Linked DNA regions of Homo sapiens. The protein of the gene in region 2 interacts with the protein of the main gene of each other region in a biochemical or structural test. Each region holds a gene or a part of one and is shown on either strand. Other genes may lie near its edges.

Evidence for each region.
Region 1: the proteins of RDH5 (region 2) and RLBP1 form a complex in vitro, tested with the Homo sapiens proteins (one study listed by BioGRID).

Annotation. Positions count from the first base shown.
Region 1 is NC_000015.10:89,218,580-89,228,971, forward strand, and holds the start of RLBP1 (retinaldehyde-binding protein 1), read right to left. Parts: upstream 3,001-10,392; 5' UTR 2,956-3,000; exon of another isoform or gene 1,281-2,955; 5' UTR 1,158-1,280; exon of another isoform or gene 497-1,157; 5' UTR 397-496; coding exon 385-396; intron 115-384; coding exon 1-114. UniProt on the Homo sapiens protein: Soluble retinoid carrier essential the proper function of both rod and cone photoreceptors.
Region 2 is NC_000012.12:55,709,616-55,724,822, reverse strand, and holds RDH5 (retinol dehydrogenase 5), read right to left. Parts: upstream 4,431-15,207; 5' UTR 4,306-4,430; intron 3,676-4,305; exon of another isoform or gene 3,671-3,675; 5' UTR 3,639-3,670; coding exon 3,329-3,638; intron 3,135-3,328; coding exon 2,876-3,134; intron 1,289-2,875; exon of another isoform or gene 938-1,288; coding exon 774-937; exon of another isoform or gene 502-773; coding exon 278-501; 3' UTR 118-277; downstream 1-117. Other genes in the region: BLOC1S1 (biogenesis of lysosome-related organelles complex 1 subunit 1), read right to left, coding at 5,214-5,324, 5,600-5,732, 7,818-7,890, 8,627-8,771. UniProt on the Homo sapiens protein: Catalyzes the oxidation of cis-isomers of retinol, including 11-cis-, 9-cis-, and 13-cis-retinol in an NAD-dependent manner. Has no activity towards all-trans retinal.

The DNA.
Region 1 (10,392 bases), on a different chromosome or scaffold from region 2:
GCGGGGCAGCTGGCTGCACGGGCCAAAGACAGGTCCATGGTCCTTGGTTGTGAGCTGCTCCAGTTGGGCACGGAGCTCCTGTTCCTCTTCAGGTACCATGCGGAACGTGCCCACCTGGGCAGAGAAAGGAAAAAGAGGAACAGCCAACCGCATCAGCCTGAGCCAGCCAGGGAAATGGGCCTGCTCAGACCTTCAGTTCTTTTGCCCAAGGTCATTGTTAAGCCTCCTCCTTTTGTGGGGTCAGGACCCACACAGGGGTTATAGAAGTGTGTGCCTATATTCCCGGGCAGAGCATAAGATAGAGAAGTAAGGAGGGAGGGAGAGGGAAGAGAGAGAAGAGAGGGAAGGTGGGTGGAGGAGAGCCCTGGAGGACAGGGTACTTACCCCTTCTGACATGTTGCCTATGGAAGACACAGAGTCCTTGGAAAAAGAAGGGATCTGCTTTCTCTGTCCTGGCCTCTCCAGCCGGCCCCTTCCCTAGGATAGGAAGTCAGGGCTGCAGGGGTTAGAAAAACCATTCTGTTATTGTCTCAGAACTGTGGATCTCAAACTTTCAATTGCATCAGAATCACCCGAGGCATTTGTTAGAAACGCAGGTGCCTGGGTCCCAACCTCCATGATTCTGACTCTGCAGGTGCAGGCTGTGGCCTAGGAACCTGCAATTTAAAGCACTTCCTGGTGGCTCTGAGGGAGATGGTTCTTGGGCTACACTTTGGGAAACACTGCTTGGACAAAGGGCACAGACACAAATAGCTCAGTCCTTAGATGTTAAAACAAGTTGGCCCTGCCAGGAAAAAAAGAATCTGGCTCTGTTCTCAATGACATGATCACTGCAGGATAAGGCAATCTCTCCTCCCTCCTGTGGCCATCCTTCTCCAGCCCGAAGGAGTCCCTCAGAAACTTCGCAGCCTAGTGGATGGCCCTTTCCCCAATGCATTCATTCTCAAGATGGGTGATGACCAGTTACATAAGTACATAATCACGAGACTGGAAGTGTGTTCTGTGCTTTGTGATGCACTAAGTACTTTCAAATCCACTCTCTCAGACCCAGGGTCAACATTATTATTTCCATTTTACATAGGAGGAAACGGGAGGAGGAATAAGTGACTTGTCCAAGGTAACACAGCCAAAAAATAGCCAGGGATCAGTACTCAGACCCAAGTTGTGACTTCCTGTCAGGACCAAGAGGCAGCCTGCTGTGGCGCAAAAGTTGGACCTGGGTTCAAGTTCTTCTCTTCCACTTGCAGGCTGTGAGATTTAACCCCAGTCTTGGTTGTTCCCTGTAAAGTAGGATGGAAGTGTTATGAAATGTAATGGACACATAAGCAATGCTTGGTTACCAGAACAGGTCCCATTCATGGCCCACATGACAACCTGCTTCCCCAGTGGGTATTTTTGGAGACAGCTCTTCTGTTTCCAGGTTTTCTCTCCTGCCTAAATGTCCTGCCTAAGTGCCTTCAAGAACCCTTCACCATCCTGCTCCTGCATGTGACCAGGTTCCATGGTCAGTTCAATCACCTAGTCACAGTTGGTAAGTGACAGAGTTGGGACTTGAACCTATGCCTGCCTGACACCAAGTCTTTTTTTGACACCTAGAGCCAAGACATCTGAAGACAAACTCCCTAGGAGAGCTGGCGTCATAGAAACCTTAAAGGTTAGGGAGACCTGGGTTTGAATCAGGCTTTGTCAGTTATGACTTGTGTGACCCTAGCAAGTTATTTAACCTTTCTGGGTCTCAGTTTCCTCATCTGCAAACTGAGGATAATAACAGTACCTACCAAAAAGAACTGTCGTGAAAACCATATAATTTCTGCAATGCTCCTGGCACAGTGTCCTGTTCTAAAGCATAGTTCCCCTTCTCTTTCTTAGCTCCATATTGATTATTACCCTAACTTGCACAAAGAGACTTGGAGGACCCCCATAGAGTATCGGAGGGTCCCCCATTTCCTGCTCTTTCCACTCCACACCCCCAGCAAGCACAGGGAAGTTCTGGGGGCCATAATCCACCCACAGGAACCAAATCTAAGCCACCTTTCTGGCTGGTAGACATCCAGGTATGTGGGCACAGAGGTAGACAGGCTGAAATGCTGCTGTGCTATCAGTTGGGTTTTGCTGGAACAGGAATGGAAATGGAGAGGCTGACAGAACTGCCCTGGGGAGCCCAGGCAAGAGGGACAGTGGCTGGACACCCCCAGCCAGTTGTGCAGACCATCAGAACAAGATCCTAGATTTTAGGAATACAGGGTTCAAGTCCGTGCGGCAACTCTTTTCTAAATATGCCCAAGCCATTAACTTTGAGTTTTAAAAATACTGATTTACAAGCTGTACACAATGAAAAAATGCCTATCCCTCACACCATGCTGATGCTGTTCCCTGCCATCTCAGATTACCAATTAAATACAGAATGCCCAGTTAAATGTGAACTTTTTTTTTTTTTTTTTTTTTGAGATGGAGTTTTGTTCTTGTCGCCCAGGCTAGAGTGCAATGGTGCGATCTCAGCTCACTGCAACCTCTGCCTCCCAGGTTCAAGCAATTCTCCTGCCTTAGCCTCCTGAGTAGCTGGAACTACAGGTGCCCACCAGCACGCCTGGCTAATTTTTGGTATTTTTAGTGGAGATGGGGTTTCACCATGTTGGCCAGGCTGGTCTCGAACTCCTGACCTCAGGTGATCTGCCTGCCTCGGCCTCCCAAAGTGCTGGGATTACAGGCGTGAGCCTAAATGTGAACTTTTTTAATACTAAAAAAGTATTTGCTGTTCATCTGAAATTCACATTTAACTGGGTGTCCTGTATTTTTATTTGCTAAATCTGCCATCAAATTGGTCTGGCTCAACCTGGAGAATGGCCAGGTGGTTTCAGTTTTACAGGCATCTTGGGACGTGGTCTCCCTGCTCCCCTGAGTCCTCACCCCAGTCCTGGGCTCCCTGGCCCAGGCAAGCCCCAGGTATTGACTTACCTGCCAGGTCGGCAGCTCCTCCTTGGGGCTACCTGGTACCTGAATGTCCTGGAGCTCTAGAGGTTCCCTCCGCTGGAGGCGTGGTCCGGTCAGCAGGTTGGGATTAGTGTGTCATAAGGAACTTCTCACCGCCCACAGTTTCCGTTAAATCGGGCTCACAGGAGGCCCTCAGTGGGGCAAAGGAAGACCCAGAGAGAAAGGGGAGAGGGGAGAGGCCTGGGCCTGGCTGGAGGCGCATCAAAGCCCTCCTTTGTGTGCTCCTGCTCTGGAGTTCCTGCTCGGCCATGTGGAAGCCCGGCTGTGGGGCTGGGATCTGGGCCAGTCCCATTCCCTCTTTTCTCTGCCCTCTTTCTCCTCAAGATCCCGGGGTGGGGTTGCTGAGAGAGCACCCCCCCCCCCCCACCACCACCACCAGGGTAATAAGAGGTGAAGGGAAATCGTAAATATGACTACATCTACAGTGGCAGCTCTGGCAAATCCAGGCCTATTGCCCACCCCTCCCCCAGCCAGCAGGACCTGGCATGGTAGTTTTCACCTCTGCAGTGAGTGGGGTCAGTTGAGAAATGTGGCTGGTTAAGGCCAAGCAGGGAGAGGACAAGACAGGCTGAGCCTCCTTCTGGGCAGTGTGGTGCAGTGGCATGCCCTGGAACCAGACTGCCCGCCTGTAAAGCCTCGCTCGAGCATCTTCTGGCCGGGAAACATGACTTCAAAACTCATCGGCTCAGTTTCCTCCTCTAAGAAGTGTAGAAAACTAGAGGACCAGGCTCATGACTTTAGTGCGGATGAAATGGCAGTAAAGTGCTTAGTTCAGGGGTTTAGCTGCCTGACAATAAGTCCTCTGGAAAGGTCAGTTACTCCAAATACAGTATCAATAGGTGCCTAACTGGAGGGAACTTATTATTCAATCCTTTGTACAGGAAGAAACCCCTCTGCAGCCTCTCAACAGGTAACTTCCCAGCCTCTGTTTTGCTATTCCACTGGATGAGGAGGAGGTAATTCCTGTAGAACATTTTCTGTCTAGGATTCCAAGGGCGGGAAGCTCCCTGTTTCCATTACTGGGGAGCTCTCCTTGTTTAAAACCTCATTGTTGGTTTGAGCCCCAAGCAGCTTCCTATAATGACCACCCTTGGTCCTGGTTTTGCCTCCTAGAGGTGCCCAGGAGAAGGTCAAGCTCCCCTGCACAGGTCGCTCTCCAGAATCCAACCCCAGAAGTGCTTTTTTATTTTCCCTGGACATAGTTCTTGCTTTTCCACCCATTCCTACTTTGGCAGGTTTGGGATTTCTTCCCACCACCCCATCTCCTGCCGACCCCTTCCTCCAGAGCAGGCTGCAATGCCTGGTGCTTAGATCTTGGGGTGCATTTGAGTCACCTTGAGCTCTTTGTTTCCAAAAGCCCTTTCCCTGGGCTCCTACTCTGGCTGCTGTCTGGGTCTTGGGCTGTTTCTGTCCCAAGTCCTCTGTGGAGCTGGGGATCCTTCATTTATGTCATTCTTCTTCCTGGTGGTCTAGTCCTATGCTGTCTTATATAGTAGCCGCTAGCCCCATGTAGCTTTTCAGCATTCGAAATGGGGTAATGCTAGAGATTGGGTCTCACTATAAAAAAAATTTTTATAAATAGGGTAATACGACCCAAGAACTAAATTTTTGTGGGAGTCTGGCAGGGGACAGAGTCTCGCTCTGTCACCCAGGCGGGAGTGCAGTGGTGCGATCTCAGCTTATTGCAACCTCCGCCTCCCAGGTGCAAGTGATTCTCATGCCTCAGCCTCCCAAGTAGCTGGGATTACAGGCACGCACCACCATGCCCGGCTAATTTTAGTATTTTTAGTAGAGACAGGGTTTCACATGTTGGCCAGGCTAGTCTCGAACTCCTGAGCTCAAGTGATCACCCCGCCTTGGCCTCCCAAAGTGCTGGGATTACAAGCGTGAGCCATTGTGCCCAGCCTTACATTTTTAATTTTATTTGATTTTAATTAACTTAAATTTAAATTTAAAAACTAATACTGGATTCAGTGTTTTGAAAACTTTTAAGTAGGTTTAGAACAATTTATATGTGTGATCCTATTTTTTTAACTGTAAATTTTGTGAAGTATTTCTCATAAGAATTTAGAGTCCCAAGTGAGATGTGCTATAAAGTATCTAAAGACTTAGTACAAACAAAATAATGTAAAATATCCCATTAACACTTTTTATAAGGCTTAATGTTCTGAAATTATCATCATCATGTTTGTTATATATTGGGTTAAAAATATATTAGAGCTTGTAATCCCAGCACTTTGGGAGGCCAAGGAGGGAGGACCACTTGAGGTCAGGAGTTTGAGACCAGCCTGGCCAACATGGTGAAACCTAGTCTCTGCAAAAAAACAAAAATTAGCTGGGCATGGTGGCAGGCACCTGTAATCCCATCTACTCAGGAGGCTGAGGTAGGAGGATTGCTTGAACCTTAGAGGTGAAGGTTGCAGTGAGCTGAGATCACACCGCTACACTCCAGCCTGGGTGATGGAGTGAGACTCCATCTCAAAAAAAAAATACACACACACACACACACACACACACACACACACACACACACAAGCTAATTTTTCCCATTTCTTTTTTTGAGACTGGGTTTTGTTCTCTCACCCTGGCTAGAGTGCAGTGGCATGATTATGGCTCACTGCGACCTCGATCTCCCTAGCTCAAGCCATCTTCCTCCCTCAGCCTCCTGAGCAGCTGAAACCACAGGAGTGCACCACCACATCCAACTAAAATTTTTTTTTTTTGAGACATAGTCTCGCTCTGTCACCCAGGCTACAGTGCAGTGGCACTATCTCAGCTCACTGCAACCTCTGCCTCCCGGGTTCAAGCAATTCTTCTGCCTCAGCCTCCTGAGTAGCTGGGATTACAGGTGCCCACCACCACACCCAGCTATTTGTGTTTTTAGTAGAGACTGGGTTTCACCATGTTGGCCGGGCTGGTTTTGAACTCCTGACCTCAGGTGATCCACCTGCCTCAGCCTCCCAAAGTGCTGGAATTACAGATATGAGCCACCATGCCCGGCCATATTTTGTTTGTTTGTTTTTTGTAGAGACAAGGTCTTACTCTGTTGCCCAGGCTGATCTCAAACTTCTGGACTCAAGCGATCATCCCACCTTGGCCTCCCAAATTACTGGGATTACAGACGTGAGCCACCAGGCCTAGCCCTGTTTCTTTTTTTTAGGGGTAGGCTCTCTCTCTGTCGCCCAGCCTGGAGTGCACTGGCATGATCATAGGTCACTGCAGCCTCCAACTCCTGGGCTCAGGCAATTCTCCTGCCTCAGCCCCTTGAGTAGCTAGGACTATCAGCAGGCGCTAACCTGCCCAACTGATTTTTTATTTATTTATTTATTTATTTTGAGATGGAGTCTTGCTCTGTCGCCCAGGCTGGAGTGCAGTGATGTGAACTCAGCTCACTGCAGCCTCCACCTCCTGGGTTCAAGCGATTCTCCTGCCTCAGCCTCCCGAGTAGCTGGGACTACAGGTGGGCACCACCGCGCCCAGCTAATTTTTGTATATATTTTTAGTAGAGACGGGGTTACACCATGTTGGCCAGGCTGGTCTCGAACTCCTGACCTCAAGTGAGCCGCCCGCCTCGGCCTCCTAAAGTGCTGGGATTACAGGCATGAGCCACCACGCCCGGCCTCAACTAATTTTTACAATTATTTTTTATAGAAATGGGGTCTCACTATGTTGCCCAGGCTGGACTCAAACTCTTGGTTTCAAGCTGTTCTCCTACCTTGGCTTCCCAAAGTGTTGTGATTACAGGCCTGAGCCATGGCACCTGGCCCACCTGTTTCTTTTTACTTTTCTTGATGTGATATTAGAAAATTTAGAATGACATCTATTTCTCATGGAGCGTGCTGGTCTAAACCTTGCTACTGCTCAGTGTGGTCTAGAAACCAGCAGCATTGGCCTTACCTGGCAGCCTGTGGGAAATGCAGAGTCTTGGGCCCTTCCCCAGAGAGGCCAAGTCAGAGCCTGGATTGGATTAGGGCCCATCCTAATGACCTCATTTTAACTTAATTACTTAAAATTACTTAATTTTTAGCCAGAACGGTGGCACAGCTCTGTAGTCTCAGCTACTGAGGAGGCTGAGGAAGGAGGATCTCTTGAGTCCAGGAATTCGAGGCTGTAGTAAGCTATGATTGTACCTGTGAACAGCCAGTACACTCCAGCCTGGGCAACACAGCGAAACCCTGACTCAAAAAAACCCAAAAATAAATAAATAAATAAATAAATAAATAAATAAATAATTAATTTTAATGGAGTTCACCAGGTATAATTCCCCCACGCATATAAAAGTTTGAAAAGCACTGCCCTAGAGAATGTCTCCCCTTCTGCTATTCCTGTCTGTGCCCAGCACAGTGGCTTGCCTGACCTGTCACTGCCACCAGCTGGGAGGTTTGGTGGGGAGTCAGACGGATGACTGCCCTCACCCACCATCCTCTTCCTCTTTGGGACAGGCAAGTGGAGGCTGGGTTGTGAGTGGAGGCAGAGAGGGAGGGTCTCCTGTCCTGATTCTAGGTCTGGCCCTGCCCAGTATGAGCCACTGACCCTCTTAGGCCTCAGTTGTTTCACCTGTAAGATGCTACATGGGCCAAACTGCATCTGTCCACTCCCCACCCACCCAATCCATATGTGGAAGCTCTAACCCCCAGGACCTCAGAATGTGACTGTTATTTACAGATTGTGCCTTTAAAGAGGCAATTAAGTTAAAATGAGGTCATTAGTGTGGGCCCTAATTCAATATGGCTGGTATCCTTATAAGAAGAGGACACAGACAGTTACAGTGGGAAGACCATGGGAAGACACAGGGAGAGAATGCCACCTACAAAGAAAGGAGAAAGGCCGCAGAGGATACTGATTCTGCCAACTCCTTGATCTCAGACTTGCAGCTTCCAGAACGGTGAGAAAACGAATTTCTGTTGTTTAAGCCACCCGGTCTATGGTACTTTGTGATGGCAGCCATAGCAAACGAATACAGATGGGATGATGGTTTTTTCCCCAGGTACTTCATAGAGTGTGAGGCTCCTTGGAGATAATGAGAATGAGAGCCCAGGCTGCCCCGTGGGAAGGAACCATGAGGGCTCAGAAGAGGCTCTGTCAATGCTGGGTGATAGACTCTGTCACAAAGAACATTCCTGTGCACCAAGAACACTTTTGAGTTAATGGCCCAGCCCTGATAGAAGTGGGCTGCACAGAACTTTTCGGGATACTAGCAGGCCACGAGGTCATTCTGGGGGAGCAGAGCTTTCTGCAGCATTATCTTCTGCTCACAGCCCTTCTAGTGCCTCTAATCTTCCCTCCTCCCTTCCCAAGAGTCACGCTCACGTCCAGCTCCCCTGGTGGGAACAATAGTGCCTCTGTGAGAGGAGATGCACCCTCATTGGCCCAGACACCTGTGCTGGCAACATTGGCAGACAACCATGGGCTCCCTGGCCTGCTGCCCTCTGCCTGGCTGAAGGCGGGGATGGGGATGACTTACATTTGTTGTGCCCCCTTTCTGTACCGTGGCCTGTGCCCTACCAGCCTTATCTCAGCCAACCCTTCCAGATGTGAGAGAGTATAATCCCCTTTTTCATAGACTAGGATACTGAGAGTCCGGGAGGTGAGGGGTCTTCCCAAAGCCACACAGCTGGTTAGAAATGGAGTCTCGGCCATTCTAAAGCCCTCTCAGCATTCAACACACAAGGCTCTCCCTCCTCAAGAAGCGAGATCAACACAGGGGTGTCTGCCCAGGGACTTCACACCTGCCCCCTGGCTCCTGGGGAAGGTGACATCATCTGACCCTCCCTGGGAGCAGTTCCAGTGGGCAAGAGTTTGGTCAATGCAATCCCTTCTTTGGTCAGTAATAATTATCCTGGGATAGGGAGGACCTTATGGAATCCTAGGCCTCAACCTTTCCTTTGAGAAGCGGGAAAACCCAAGTCCGGAAACATTCTGCACTTTCCTTAAAATTAAACATGGTAATGAGAGCGAGCAAGCAGTGTCTCTGACCCCTGGGGTGGGCAGACTCTTCGTGCTCTAAAAAGTTCCCTCCCTCTAGGAGGCACCGCTCATTCCACAAAGAGAGGCCTGCCTGTGTCAGGGGAAGAGTGGGAGGTGCTGGGAATGAGCAAGGAGGAGCTGAACAATACAGTCTATCAGGATGCTTGTTCCAAGAGGATTTCAGAATTAAGGTGTTTCCACGATCTGAGGAAAAATAAGCTTGCAAACACACACAAGTAAAAAGGAAGTGAAGATGGATCCATGGCTGATGCGAGGGATGGATAGATGGATAGATGTGATGAAGCAAGTAGAATAAAATATTTATGGTAGAATCTAAGTACTGGGTTTCTGGGATGTTAAATGTAAAAATCAAGAAGGCTTCTTCTTTTTTTTTTAGACAGAGTCTTGCTCTTTCATCCAGGCTGGAGTGCAGTGGTGCGATCTTGGCTCACTGCAACCTCTGCCTCCCAGGTTCAAGCAATTCTACTGCCTCGGCCTCCCGAGTAGCTGGGATTACAGGCACCCACCACCATGCCTGCCTAATTTTTGTATTTTTAGTAGAGTTGGGGTTTTACCATGTTGGCCAGGCTGCTCTCGAACTCCTGACCGAGGTGATCCACCCACCTTGGCCTCCCAAAGTGCTGGGATTACAGGTGTGAGTCACCACGCCCAGCCTCAAGAAGCCTTCTTTCTCTTATTTCACCATTCTTTCCCTTCCTCTCTTACCTTCCCTTTCCCATATTCTTTCAACCAACATGTATTGAGTAGCTATTATATATTAGGCACTGTGCATCCAGAGATAAATAAAATACTGTCTCTGCCTTAAGCAGCCCACAGTTTAGAAGGGGAGAGGCCTGCACAAAATAATTATAAAATAGGGCAAGTTCTACGACAAGACAAAGGTTCTGAAATGATCTATGTGGTAGTGCCAAAAAATGCTCCACAAAAATGGGGAGTTGTTCTTTGGTTAATTAAGTTTGAGAAATGTTACAAATTATATTGGAAGTTACTAATGAAAGTAAGCAATGCAAAGGCTCTGAGAAGTCCTGTAGCAAAGAAATCTAGAAAACCAGTTTAGGCTGGGCACAATGGCTCACACCTTCAATCCCAGCACTTTGTGGGGCTGAGATGGGAGAATTGACAGCCTGAGAGTTTCAGACCAGCCTGGTCAACATAATGAGACCCTGTCTCTAAAAAAATAAAATAAATACCTCGATGTTGTGGTTTGCACCTGTGGTCCCAGCTACTTAGGAGGCCAAGGCAGAAGGATTGCTTGAGCCCAGGAGGTCAAGGCTGCAGTGAACTATGATCTTGCCACTGCAGTCTAGCCTGGGTGACAAAGTGAGACCCTCTCTCAAGAAAAGAAACAAAAAACCAGTTTAACTCAGCATTTCCCAAATTTATGAGCCAGTGCAACCCTTTCATGAACAACTT
Region 2 (15,207 bases):
ATGTGAGGCAGTTCCCTGGCGCCCCACTGTGGGTGCTAGCTGTTTTGCAGGGACTGAACAGGCCAGAGACCGTGAGCATGTCGGTTTGGAGTAGTTGGCACTTAAATGGGGTCAGCCTTCCACTGGGCACATTTCTGCCCACCTTCTTTTTATTTTTTAAACAATACACTTTTGTTAGTGCTTATTTTGTGGCAGGCACCAGGCAGTACCAGGGTGGGGGCAGAAATAAATCAAAGTCCTTGTCCTTGAAAAACAATCTCTTGCTGGAAGGCTGGATTCAGTAGACTGCTTGGGCAGGCTTGGGAAGGACCCAGGTGAGCACAGCATCCACCAGGCTGGCTGGCAGGTAGGAGGCAGGCAGCCAGAGCAGCTTGGCATCCCAACCTGGGCTGTAGCGGGTTCGGGGGTGTCGAGCAGTCAGGGCATGCTCCAGGCATCGGCTCACCTTGGTTAGGTCCGGGTCACAGATCAGGTTCATGATGCGCTGTTGCATTTTCAGGTCTGCAGCCCCATAGGTGGTTGCAATCAGTTTCCCTTCCTCACTCCAGCCCATCTTAGGTACTGTCTTCTGGGGCCCTGGGCTTGTCACCCTCAGTCCCCTCCTCAGTGTGGGGAGTGGGCAGGTTCCACATGGCCTGGGCACTCTTGTAACATCCTGTTCACCCTCAACCCTGCCCTGGGTGCCCCACCCACCTCCTAGCAGGCTTATGCAGGACTGGCCTTTCTGGTACTTGTTTCCCTTCATGTGCCCCTGTGTGGGCCTGGCTACTCACACTTGGTGAGGAAGGCCCCCCCATAGTGGGCCTGTGTGGCAGGAGGCAGCCGTGCCCAGCAGGCCTGCAGGGTTTTCTCCAGACTCTCCAGGTTGGTCACAGGGGTTCGGAAGAAGCCAGGCTCCACGATGGAGACTCGTATCCCAAAATGAGCTACATCCCGCCTAGAGTCGGGGCAGAGCGAAGTTGCTGGGTTCTTGCCCTATAGGGAGGGGACTTTGAGGGACATGGGTTGGGGAGCTGAGAAAGTTACCACAGACCAGGGACAAGAGTTTTGACGGAGATGCCTACTGCCCCGGGACAAGGGTCAAGTGGGGTAGAGGGAGGAAAGTATTTTTGAGGTTTGTTTTCTTTGATCTAGAGCAGGGGTCAGCACGTTTTTTTCTTAAAGGGCCAGAGAGTTAATATTTTAAGCATGGCAGGCCAAGAAACAAAATTAATGATATTATCAGGTACTTATATAACAGTTTACAATGTAACCATTTAAAAATAAAAAAAACCATTATCAGCTTGTAGGCAGCTGGCCAGATCTGGCTTGAGTACTGAGTTTGCCGATTCCTGACCTAGAGGAACCCCATTCCCTTGCTCCCAAAACACATGGTTGAGCCCTGAGTGCTGGATATTGAAGGGTATAGTCTCGTATTTGCTGGAGGGTAAGCTGATGGGGAAAGTGGGGATACATCCCACTGCCCTGGCACAGATGTAGAAATCCAAGTATAGGTAAGGAGCAGGAGGGAAGGGGATAAAAAAAAATTCAAGTATAAAGTATGTGTTCCAGTATGCAGTGGCTCACACCTATAATCCCAACACTTTGGGAGGCCCAGGCGGAAGCATCGCTTGAGGCCGGGAGTTGGAGACAAGTCTGGTCACCACAGCAAGACCCCATCTGTAAAAAAATACTAGCCAGGCATGCTGGCACGCGCCTGTGGTCTCAGCTACTCAGGAGGCTGAGGCGGATATCGCTTGAGCTGCTTGAGCCTAGGAGTTTGAAGTTCAGTGGGCCGTGACTGCACCACTGCACTCCACCCTGGGTGAGAGCAAGGCCTTGTCTCAAAACTAAAAGTATGTGTCCCATGATGCTGCCTGAAAAATTAAGGCTGAGAGACAGGAGACATTCAGGTTATTTGCTGAGTGATGGTGACAAACGCAGGCTTCCTTAGAAGGTAGACTAAGCTTAGGCGCCTTATACTCCTGCTAAGAACTCAGGCCTTGGGCCGTGTGTGGTGGCTCATGCCTGTAATCCCAGCACTTTGGGAGGCCGGGTCGGGTGGATCACCTGAGGTCAGGAGTTCAAAACCAGCCTGGCCAACATGGTATAACTCCATCTCTACTAAAAATACAAAAAAATTAGCTGGGAGTGGTGGCACGTGCCTGTAAGCCCAGCTAATCGGGAGGCTGAGGCAGGAGAATCACATGAACCTGAGAGGCAGGGGTTGCAGTGAGCTGAGATCTCGCCATTGCACTCCAGCCTAGGCAACAAGAGCAAAACGCTTAAAAAAAAAAAAACAAAAAAAAACTCAGGCCCTACTCCCGTTGTCCTCATCATGTCTCCTTTGTGCTCCCACGGAACTTTGAACCTTATTGTTTAAAGACGAGAGGCAAGGCCGGGCGTGGTGGCTCACACCTGTAATCCCAGCACTTTGGGAGGCTGAGGTGGGCGGATCACGAGGTCAGGAGTTTGAGACCAACCTGGCCAACATAGTGAAACCCTGTCTCTACTAAAAATACAAAAATAAGCCAGGCATGGTGGCGCATGCCTGTAGTCCCAGCTACTCGGGAGGCTGAGGCAGGAGAATCGCTTGAACCCCGGGGGTGGAAATTGTGGTGAGCCAAGATCGCGCCACTGCACTCCAGCCTGGCGACAGAGCAAGACTCCATCTCAAAAAACAAAAAACAAACACGTTAAAAATGGGTAAAGAGAAGTAATCTACTTATGGTCACAAAGCTTACATAAGGGTAGACTTCATTGAACCCATGAAGTCTAGCCCTAAACTGTCTCTTCTTAACTATTCCAATGTGCTGTATCTTAACCACCTCTGCTGGCCCACGTTTGTTGAGTGGGCTGCTGTTAGTCCTGGAACCCAGAGCCCTGTACCCCTCACCTCAGGCTGTCAGAGAAGGCCTCCAGGCCAAATTTGGAGACACAGTAGCCCCCACCATTGGCTGCCAGGCGACCCAGGACGCTGGTGATGTTGATCACCCGGCCCCGGGCTTGCTGCAGCAGAGGCAGCAGGGCAAGGGTGACCCCGATGGGACCCATTGTGTTCACATTCAGCACCCGCTGGAAATCGTCCCGGGTCAGCCATGGTGTGGGTCCGATGATACCAGCCACACCAGCATTATTCACCAGACCAAAAAGCCCTGTGGGGAGATGAAAAGGATGCTGGGGGTAGGTGAGGCACTCCCACAGCTCCCTCTTCTTCCTGGGAGCATCTGAAAACTGCTTCTCCTCAAATTGTCCCTTTAGCTTACCACAGCCCTTGCAGGTGACTCCTGGGGTGACTGTGGGGATCAGGACACCCCACACCATATTCCTGGTGGTCTACCATACTTACCTGCTTCCTTAACGTGCATCTCCACCCACTTGGCTGCCTGCTGGACGCTCTGGGGATCAGTGATATCCAACAGGGTGGTGTGGAGGCGGGAGGAGGCCACCCGCTGCAGGTCCTCGGCCCCGGAGGGGGTCAGGCAGCTGGCCAGGACTCGGAAGCCTCTCTGGTCCAGCTGCAGTGCCAGAAGGCGCCCAAAGCCTGAGTCACAGCCGGTGATGAAGACAAAGGCATTGCTGGCGGGCAGGCTCTGCCGGTCCCTGAGCAACCACAGCACTGCCCAGAGTAAGGCACCCAGCAGAAGAGGCAGCCACATAGCTGGAGCCCAAGTGACCTACAGGTGGCAGCCTAGGCTGGGCAGAAAAACTTGTCCAGTTTACTGTGGCCCTCAAGCCCTTTCCCCTAATACCCTCCCTAGCTGGAAGCATCTGGTGTGAGCATATTGAGAAATTATCTGGTTGGCAGATAATTGGCCAACCATGGCTCATCTGTTCAAAGCAAAGATGTGGGCAGACCCTGTATTTGTGGCTAACTTAACTAAAACCACATGAGCCAGATCCTGTGTACAGACCTGCTGTATGGAGCAGAGGCATCTTTTTTTTTTTTTTTTTTTTTTTGAGATGGAGTCTCACTCTGTCGCCCAGGCTGGAGTGCAGCAGAGGCATCTTCTTGCTTGCCTCACACCACCTCTCCTTCTAAACCAGGGACACTGAACCTTCTATATGCAACCTGGGTCTTGTGTTTGGAATGATGTATAGGGCCAAGAGGTTTGCTGTGTGATACTGAGCATCTCACTGTCTCTCTCAACCTATTTTCTCATCTACCAAGTGGGGCTAAGACCCACCAGGTCCACCTCAGAGTTGTGGAGGATCAAAGGGGATAATGTGTGAGGAAGCATGTTAAAAGCTGAAAGTTTTGAGTTGGCAATACATGTAATATCTGGCTAGTCTTCTCAGTTCCCCCAGCTCCCAGTATCCACTTACCTCCTGTGGCGAAAGCTGGCAGGTACTACAGCGCCCGAAGCTTATTCTTTTGCTTTTGTTTAAGAGACTGCTCCCAGTCTTCCCAGCCTCCCACACTAACTACTGCTAAGGCCAAAGTCCGGAGTGGGTGGACTTGGATGCCAGGCGTATTAAGTGTATGTGTGACAGGGTGGGGATAGGACTGAGGAGGAGGAGGAGCCAGGGAGGCTGGAGCTTGCCTGGCTGAAGCCAGGACTTGGCAGAGGCCAGATTTGCCTAGGCTCCCCCCACCCCTTGGCTGTCTTTCTCAGCCTGGGTTCCTGACCATCTATGTCATGGTCTCCAAGGAGGAGGGAGCTGTCAAGGATGGCAGCTGCACTGCTCTGTTGGTAACGGTTACTGGACCTGTCATTCCTCCCCCTTCTCAGCCCTGAAGTGCCCCCAGGAATTAATCTCCCACCTGGCTCAGACTCATGACACTGCTTAGAGTTAGCCTGGGAGAGGCCATGAGCACGTGGAGAGGCAGAAAGCCAGAGCTGGGGACCAGGCCTGTACCTTGCCTTGTTTCTCTTCTGTAGGAAACAAGTCCTGAATTAGGAAGCTTGGGGCAGGGCTACTAGGACCTTCTCTCAGGAGGGATGGGAACTCCCACCCTCTGCTTGCCTAACAGACACCTGCACAAGGGCCATGGAGGAGAAGAGAGTTGGGATAGTAAGAGGAAGCTAGTTCCACCCTCTCCCCAAAAGGTACCTGTCCCTCAGGGAAACCACCTTTGAACCTTCCACTCCCACCCCCGACACTGGAGCTAGTAGCTCTCTGAAACACACCACAGAGAAACGGAGGCTTGTGTTTTATTCAAGGCTTGTCAGCCTCCCTCCTTCCCCCTGCGGGTGAGGTAGGAGGGATAGGGTTGGGGGAGGGAACAGGGGCTAGGAAGGGGCAGACTGCAGCTGCCCTTTGTAGACATATTCCAGTGCAGTGGCAATGGTGCGCATGTCCAGCTCGATGCTCCGAGCCCAGTTCTCCACATCCCCAATTTCCTGGGAAGGGGGAGAGGAGGTGGGAGCCCAGGAATCAGAATGGGTAGAGTATGGCTTCCAGTCTGGGGAATACGTTTTATTCATCTCCTGGAAAAGGCTTTACTTGGACCCACCAACTGCTTTTCTTTCTTTCTCTACCTTTTCTGACACTGGGGCTATAGATGGGGTTTCTGGGACCACCCTACTTCCTCCTTAACCTAAACCTGAGGTAACCTGACTGGAGGCAGCCAATGGGGGCCCAGGATTGGGGTGGTGAGGTAGGGAGTATGGCCCACCTTGAGTGCCTGGTTGAAGTTCTCCACCATTCCGATCCACTGGCCTGTCTGCTTGGCAAATTGGGCAGCCTGGACCTGTAGGGTCTTCACCTCATGGTCCAGCTTTCTCTGGTTCATGTAGGCCTGGGCCACACTGGGGGGTTGGAGGAGGGAGGAGATCAGCTCCAGCTAGTTGGGGGTGGTCTCCGGGACTAATATTCCATTGCAGCAGTGGGAGTTCAGCCAAGAATCAGGGCTCATAATTTTGGCCATTTTTGGATGTGATGCAAATGACTACCAGTACATGCAAATAAACCCAGCTCCTTCCTTTCACTCCCAGGATTCCCAGGAGAGCCAAGCTCGGAGCTGACTAGAAACATACCAGCTCCAAACCCCAAAAAGGAGTTCCTGCAGCTGAGTGGGGGAAGGGAGGGAAAACCTGGGGTGATATCCCTGAGGAAAAAGCTGGGAGGGAAAAAGGGGCATGGAAAAACTGGGAAAATCCAGCAGGAGGAACACATCTGGCAGTGATTGGAAGCCTAGGGATCTATGCAAGAAGTTGGAGAGGGAAATTGGGCCCCTCCCTGAAGCCGGGTTAGGATGGGAGTACAAACCCCCTCCCCAGGAACCCTGGGTCAAAAGAGGGTATCCCAGGGGTTTCTTCTCGGCTCTCAGTTGCTCTCCCAAGCCTTCGCTTTTGCCCACACAGATCAAGGAACACACACAAACACACACACACACACACACACACATGCTCTCCCTCCCTTCTGCCTTAGGCACTAGTTTTTCTTTTCAATCAAGGTATGGGCTGTGGTTACCATTACTACCATGGGGTTGGTGTCCCCAACCTTCTGCCAGTGTTTTTTGCCCTCCCCAACCCCTGCAATAATTGTTCTCCTTTATTGGCTGTTGAATTTTTCACTTCCCACCCCAGAGCTCTACTCAGCCAGGAGATTCCACATCCGGTGCCCCCACCCACTGGAATGTGTGGGGGCTGGAGCGGGGAAGGGGTTGGTGGGGGCTGAGGGAGTGGGCAGGACACCTGACAGGGGCCAAGATAGACTGAGCCTTTGTTTTCCTTTCCGGGGAATGAGAGGAGGCGTGGGCAGCAACACAAAACCCTTTCTAATCTGGCTTTGGCTTAGCTGCCCTCTAAGCTGAAAGTGGGGTGGCATCTAGCAAAGGAAAAGAAGAGGGAAAGGCCTGGGCCAATCTCACAAATGATGGGCACAGCAGAGCCCAGGAGGTGCCAATGTGGGAGGGAGGAAATGGGAGGGCAGACCCTGTTCCTTCTTTTTGGGAGACAGCTGGGTCACTGTCAAGGGTCGGGTAGGAACTGAAACAGACTCCCCTGAGAATTCCTGAACTTCTGGTTTTCCCCATTGACCACCTGCTTCTATATTCACACTGAGTAAAGAGAGCTGCCTGGAGAGAAGGGAGATCAGAGGCCCCAGCCACAACTTTCTTTCTCTCAACCTTCCCCCAAGATGAGTAACAAAGATGACCCCAGCCCCTGCATGGCTCACTTGGATGACTCAGTCTCTGGATTCACACCGAGCTGTTCTACTTGACCTGGGGTGGAAGGTACCATACTGCCTTTCTTCCAATAGGCAGACTAGCAAATCATCATCTCTGCACGCTTCTGGGTCACTTAGGGTCAAGAGACAATGTTCTTTGCTTTTTCCCAAGTCTTTGGCTGTTACTTGCATTCTCATTTAGGGCTGGGGCAGGGTGTGGTCCCTAGAGACCCAATAGGAAGGTAAGAGACAGCCTGGCTCTGCCATAGCTCCCGGAACAGGTTCTACTCTCACCACCACCAGCTCTGCCATCTCTTTCCTGCCAGCTGCTCCCCAGGCTTGCCAGAGGGTGGGAGGCAGAGGAGAGGGTGGTAAGCTGTAATGAAGGAGGGTGCTCTCCCTCCTGCTGAAGTGACAGCTGGACTTGGAAGGGTGAAGGGAGGTGGGCAGATGGCATCAAGTTGTAAATGCCAGGGAAGTTAACGTGGGGAAGGGGAAATCTGGCTGCTTCTCTAACCACGGCAGCTGTTCCTCCCTTGCCCAGTGCTAGGACTCAGAGTTGACTCAAGTTGCTCTACAAAGAGCTGGGAGGGGCGGGGTAGGATAGGGGAATTAGTGGAACATCCCACCCCTTCAACAGCTATTTGAGGGCCAGACTGGCCAGTGCCTAAACTTGGGCGGGGTGGGGAAGGAGGAAACTGATGTTGATAAGAGGTCCATACCCCACATTGAGGTGATCCACCAAAGCTTCTGTCAGGCAGGTCGCTGCAGTGATAGCCTCTCGCCTCCTCTTTTCTGGGGAGAGGGGGAAAAGGAATTGGAGGGGAGACTTGGTTTTTTGAGGGGTAGTGTTAAAGGTTCCCTACCCATCCATTACTATTCTGCTAGTTGCCGAAATTTCTTAACTAATCTCTGAATGCCGGAGCTGAAAAGGACCTTGCAAAACATAGCGCAACCTCTTTCATTTTAGAGATGAGGAAACTGGTACCCTGGGAGGGAAATGGACTCACTCAGGGACGCCAGGAAGTCAGCGGCAGCGCCCAGGACTCCTGACTCCCAGGCACTCTTTCTCCACTACTCGGCCGCAGAATCGGTAACTCCGAGATTTCCAGCCCGGACTCAGGAAACAAGTGCCCCACCTCCGTTCCGGTGGTTTCAGGCCTCCAAGAAGCCCATCTCTGGGGGGTTCCCCACACCCTCCTCCCTCCAGAGTCGCTCCTTCCCGCCGCCAGGACGAGAGGCTCCCAGGGCCAATAGGCAGGGCGCTCCGGGGCAGGGGCGGGGCTAAGGTGCGGCAGGTCGGGGATTGGGGGCGTTGCCGAGGGGACCGGAGTATTGCCCAAGGGACCGGAGCCAGTTGGCAAGGGAAAGGAGTTTCAAAAAAAGCCTCTCTGAAATTCCCTCTCCCCCATGCCCGTTGCCCGCTAGCTGGCGTCTTTCCCTGGATATGGTTAGTTACTCGAGATCCAGGCTCCGGGCTGAAGCTAGGCCGCGGCCGAAGAGAAAACGGCCGACAGGATATTTGGCTCACCCTGCAGCTCCTTGCGTTCATTCTGCTTGGCCTGGTGTTCTTTTAGGAGGCGGGACAGCATGGTCACGTCGGGCTGGGGGCTGGGTACGCCGGGCCCCCTCCGGCTCCGGAAGCTGGAACGCTCACCTCGGCTCCCCGGGGCCATGTCACGTGACCGCTGTGTCACGTGAGGTTGGGAACCGCCCTCTTGAGACCTTGGGTGAAGATCTTGGCGGGGAAGAGAGGTAGAGGGTTGCGGAGGGCAGGTGAAGTGTTCTTTATTGGGAGCTTAGTTTTTGGTGAGTGTTGGAAGAAGTATTTTCTAATACTTATATTGCCAAGCCAGTTTTTAACATTTCCTGTGGATCTCAGGCTTCGAGGGCTGGTGGTGTCAGGCCGTCTATCACCGTTTAATTGAGGGAGCAGAAGCTCCCTGGCCTCATTTAAATTATTCTCCTTCCCTCTCCTCACCTCCTGGCAGTGCTAGCTGGTTCTCAGTTGATTCCCAGTTCCTTCCCTCAAGGAGAGGATGCTTTCCTGTCTCTCCCAACCCTCTTTCTTCTCACTACCCCACTGAAGTCTCTCAGCTCTGGGTGATCATTGTAGAGAAGCATTTTAGGCACTTCAGACAGCCTCCTAGGGAGCTTGGCTAACTTGGCGGGCTGTGTGAATGTAGAATTTCATCTCTGTCCTTTTGTGGTCAGGAATGCGAACCCATTTCAGTGTTAGCAGAAGCGTAAGTGCTGTGCCAAAGTAAAAAGTAATTTATATAAGGCCTCTGTGAACTAAAAAGAAATGCTTCCGGGATTAACTCCAGCGAGAACAATTATAAACATCATGAGCATATTCTTGCTACTGGTACAATCTCTCTCGGTGCACCTTGCACTAACATGTTGGGTGACTTTGGGCAAGTTGCTCACCATTCTAGGTTATAGTTTTCTCTTTAGTAAAACTAGGAGAAGGGATTGGATTAAATCGGTGGTTCTCAACCCTGGCTAAGCATTAGAATCTAAACATTAGAATCACAGAAATCACAAGGCTTATAAAAATGCCGTGATTAGCCGGGTGCGGTGGCTCACGCCCGTAATCCCAGCACTTTGGGAGGCCGAGGCGGGCGGATCACGAGGTCAGGAGTTCGAGACCAGGCTGACCAACATGGTGAAACCTTGTATCTACTAAAAATACAAAATTTAGCCAGGCGTAGTGGCACAAGCCTGTAATCCCAGCTACTCAGGAGCCTGAGGCAGGAGAATCGCTTGAACCTGGGAGGCAGAGGTTGCAGTGAGCCGAGATCACGCCACTGAACTCCAGCCTGGGCGACAGAGTGGGACTCTGTCTCAAAAAAAAAAAAAAAAAAGCCTTGATTCCAGACTAATTAAATAGAATCTAAGGAGTGAAGACCAAACATCACTATATATATGTATGTATATATGTATGTATACGTATATATGTGTATATATGTATGTATACGTATATATGTGTATATATGTATGTATATGTATATATGTATATATAAAATTATTATTATTTTTGAGACAGAGTCTCGCTCTGTCGCCTAGGCTGGAGTGCAGTGGCATGATCTCAGCTGACTGCAACCTCCACCTCCCAGGTTCAAGCGATTCTCCTGCCTCAGCCTCCTGAGTAGCTGGGATTACAGGCATGTGCCACCACACCTGACTAATTTTTGTATTTTTTTTTTTGAGACGGAGTCTCGCTCTGTCGCCCAGGCTGGAGTGCAGTGGCGGGATCTCGGCTCACTGCAAGCTCCGCCTCCCGGGTTCACGCCATTCTCCTGCCTCAGCCTCCCAAGTAGCTGGGACTACAGGCGCCCGCCACTACGCCCGGCTAATTTTTTTTTTTTGTATTTTTAGTAGAGACGGGGTTTCACCGTTTTAGCCGGGATGGTCTCGATCTCCTGACCTCGTGATCCGCCCGCCTCGGCCTCCCAAAGTGCTGGGATTACAGGCGTGAGCCACCGCGCCCGGCCTAATTTTTGTATTTTTAGTAGAGATGGCATTTCACCGTGTTGGTTAGACTGGTCTTGAACTCCTGACCTCAGGTAATCTGCCCGCCTCGGCCTCCCAAAGTGCTGGGATTACAGGTGTGAGCCACCGTGCCTGGCCTTATCAGTATATTTTAAAAGCTGTTCTGGTGATTCTAATGTGTATCCAGGGTTGAAACTCACTGGGCTAAACCATATCTAAAACTATTTCCAGCTTTGGCATTCTCTCATTTTGTGATTCATTGGCATAGTTGAAGTTGACGTCATTATATTTACTTGCAGGGGGAGGAGAAATGGGTGCTGATTGCATTAGAAGAAAACATTCTTGAATTTTCTGAGTAAGATTTGAGAATTACTGATCAATGATTCATTCAACTATTTGCAGAATAGCATCCCAAATCCTGGGAGATGTGCAACTGTCAAAGGATTAGTGAGGAGAAGCACATGAAATGCTTAAGTGGCAGCATAAAGCAAAACATTTTAAGTGCCAAAATAAAAATTCTAATAAAAACGTTAGATACTGTGTGTATGTGTCTAAATTATATGTGTACTGTATCTTCTTTCTAAACATTTCTTAGTACTCATCATAGTCAAGCACTTTACATGTATGTATTCATTTAATCCCTAGAACAGTTCTGTGAAATATTATTACGAGTATCCCAAATTTGCAGATGAAGAATCTGAGGTACAAGGCAGTTAAGTAATAGAGTTCATTAGTGGTAGAGCTAGGATACAAATCCAGGCTATCTGACTCCAGAGCCTGAGTCTTACCGCTGTATACTGCATAAACCACAGTTGAGACCCCAGGAGGGTAGACCCAGAGCACTTTTCTGGGAATCTCTCTGTCTCTAATCATTATGCCCCTCTAGCTTGCTGGGCATGAGCTGTAGAGAATCCTGGCAGGGGAGGAGTGTTTGAGAAGAGGCTCTGCTCCAGAGAAGGGCTAATCAATAGAAGTGGGAAGAGTGAGAGCATCACAGAGCAGCCTGGCTCTGTCCTCCCCACTCTCTGGCTCCAGCTTCCAACTGCAGTGAGCAAGCAAAATAGAGGCAGATTGGAAATGCCTGGTGCCTCACCTCCAGAGCTGTGGGGCCTGGAAGAGAAGGACATGGGTTGGAAGTGTCAAGATAATGGTGACATGGGATAAGTGAAACAGAGGGTGAGGGCTAATGGGGGTTAGTGTTGGGGGGGTCTCAAAAGTGAGTCTAAATGTTAAGATTAGGCCAACTCAGGGAGAGTGTCAGGCCCATCCTGTATTACCCTCACCCTTCTTGGCACAACTGCCTGACATTTTCACAATCGGTGTAGAGACTGCCAGGATTCTGCAGACATTAGCCTCTCCCTTCTCTCCCACACACTGGCTGTTCCTTTGCCCTAGAGCTGAGCAGAGGACATGGGGTATCTGTATCTAGTGTCCCCATCTGATCTCTCTAGGGTTATCCTCCATCTGTTCTTTTTCTGGGCCTTTATTGTTCACTGTCTAACCTTAGTTTCTGCTGCAGTTGAAGCTCAGCTTCACTTGTCCTTGGTAGAGATGGACACAAGTCGCATACATATCTATCTGGAGAATGACTCTTGAAATTTGAAGTCTCTTTCTGCTCACCTCTCCTTACGATTTCCTACTCAGATTATTTTCCCTTGGACTGAATGAATGCAACTCCACACTCCTTTCTTCACTCATTTCCCTCTTCTTTTGAGGTCTCTTTCAGAGTTAGCTTTAATTAGCAAGCTCCAAACTGACTGGCTGGGCCAAACAGGGCTGGAAGCTGCTGAGTTGTTAGGGGTTGGATGAGGGCTGAGGGAGGACACAGAGTGAGTAGACAAGGCTTCACATACTGGGAGATCTGGCTGGGCTTCAAGAGAGGGGGTTGGTGGTGGTGTGGCTAAGTTCCAAATGTTGGCCTGAAGCCAGTGCTCAAAGAAAGGGGGCCCTTGAGACAGTCCAAATGGCTCCCTTTGGTAAGTGACCTCCCAGTCCTTCTCAAGTGTTAAGGGTTTCTTTTGGATCGTCAAAGACCGGAGCGGTCAAGCTGTTTCCCCACTGAATTCCCTCAATCACATTTATGTTCTTTTCCTCCCAGCCACTCCCATGGTTCAAGCTTTGACTACAACCAGAATTCAGAGGCAGGCAGAAGGATTCCAGTGCTGGAGAGGTGAGTGAAGTAAAAAAGTTCTCATGGTGTGCATGTTGGGACGGAAAAGCCTGACCTTGGGACATAAGCTCCAAGGCTCTGTTGCCAGATGAGGTGGAGGGAGAAGTTAGCCCTGAAGTGTGTGTTCTGGAAGTGTTTGCTTGTAAGCTAGAGACAACAGTTGCAAAAAGTGTGATTTGAGGGAGCTGAAAAATACTGATCTCAAAGTGGGGAAGAAGATGTTGAAAAGGGAAGGAGCTGGAGAAAGCCTCAGCTTCCACTCATACAAAAGCTAAAGGGCTAAAATCTTGGCTGGATCTGGACATTTCTCAACGTCTAAAATTTTGGAAATTTTTATAAAGATTATTAATCTTTCATTTTTACATTTAATTTATTTAAAAAGTTCAGTTTCTCAGTCATACTAGCCACATTTCTTTTTCTTTTTCTTTTTTTTTGAGACAGAGTCTCACTCTGTTGCCCAGGCTGAAGTACAGTGTATTAATCTATTCCATGGAGTGGAGTGGATAATCTATTCCATGGATTATCATTTTACTTTGTTAGTGGTATCCTTAGAAGCACAAAATTTTTAAATTTTTTTTTTTTTTTGAGGCAGAGTCTCACTGTGTCCCCCAGGCTGGAGTGCAGTGGTGCTATCTCTGCTCACTGCAGGCTCCGCCTTCTGGGTTCAAGCGATTCTTGTGCCTCAGCCTCCTGAGTAGCTGGGATTACAGGTGTGTACCACCACGCCCAGCTGATTTTTGTATTTTTAGTAGAGATGGGTTTTTGTCATATTGGCCAGGCTGGTCTCAAACTCCTGACCTCAAGTGATCCACCTCCCTCCCTCCCAAAGTGCTGGGATTACCATGTCTGGCTTGGAAATTATTTTGAAATAATTATAGATCAGAGGAAGTTGTAAAAATAGCACATGAAGTCTTGTGTACCTTTCACTCAGTTTCCCCTAATGGTGACATCTTATGTAACTGTAGCATAAAATCAAAACCAAAAAGTTGATATTGGTACAGTATTGTTAACTGGCCTGCAGACCTCACTCAGTTTTCACCATTTTTTACATGCATTTATTTGTTTGTTTGTAGTTCTGTGCAGTTTTATATCTTGTATAGATTTGGATAATCACCACCACAATCAAGATACAAAACCCATCACCACAAAGGAACCCCCTTGTGCTATTCCTTTATGTTTGTCCCCACCCCCCTCCATCCTTGTCCCCTGGCAGCCAGTAATCTGGTCTTCATTTCTATAGTTTTGTCATTTTGAGAATGGTATGCGAGTGGAATAATACAGTTTCAGCATTTTTTGTTTGGAGACAGGGTCTCACTCTATCACCCAGGCTGGAGTGCAGTGGCAAGATCATGGCTCACTGCAGCCTTCACCTCCTGGGCTCAAGTGACACTCCCGCCTAGCCTCCTGAGTAGCTGGGACCACAGATTTGGCTAACTTTTCTATTTTTTGTAGAGATGGGGGTCTCCCTATGTTGCCCAGGCTGGTCTCCAACTCCTGGGCTCAAGTGATCCTCCTGCCTTGGCCTCTCAAAGTGCTGGGATTGCAGGCATGAGCCACTGTGCCCAGCTCAGCATTAATTTTTAATTTAACTAATTCCTAAGCTCTTGACTGAAATACAAGAAGTTCTCTAACAGTTTATTTATTTTAATATTGAGCTTACCGCATTCTCTGGATCCTTCTAGTTTCTTTTTTTTTTCTTTTTTTCTGATGTGGAGTCTCTGTCACCCAGGCTGGAGTGCAGTGGTGCCATCTCAGCTCACTGCAACCTCCGTCTCCTGGGTTTAAGTGATTCTTGTGCCTCAGTCTCTGGAGTAGCTGGGATTACAGGTACCCGCCACCACACCCGGCTAATTTTTGTATTTTTAGTAGAGACAGGGTTTCACCGTGTTGGTCCGGCTGGTCTTGAACTTCTGATCTCAGGTGATCCGCCTGCTTCGGCCTCCCAAAGTGCTGGGATTATAGGCGTGAGCCACCGCGCCCGGCCCCGTCTAGTTTCTTAATTTCCCTCTTCACCTACGATATTATCTTCCACTCCAACATTCTGGTCTCATTTCTCCTTGAGAGAAATCTACATGTCTAAATTTACTAGGCTGGTCTAGCACGCTCTTGTGTGTTCCCCTCCCTCCTTTGCCCCTCTATTTATAGCCAGGCTAATTTTGGGTGGCCTCTCTCTCTCTTCTTTCCTGATCTTTCCTCCTGTGGTGGTGAGGTGACTTCTCAAATATTTGGAGAGAGGAGGTCAGAAGCAGATTCTTGGCATCTGATTTCAGCCCTGGATCACAGAAGCCAGTGGAGTGGGAATGGAGACAGGCAGAAGCTGCAGGTGCAGATAGGAGGCAGCTTGGGCTCTAAAGGCATTTTGAGCTGGGTCGGGGGCGGGGGGACCTGGGCAGGGAGTCAGTAGTCCCAGTTCTGTCCTAATTTTGCAATTCTGCATTCCCATGTCA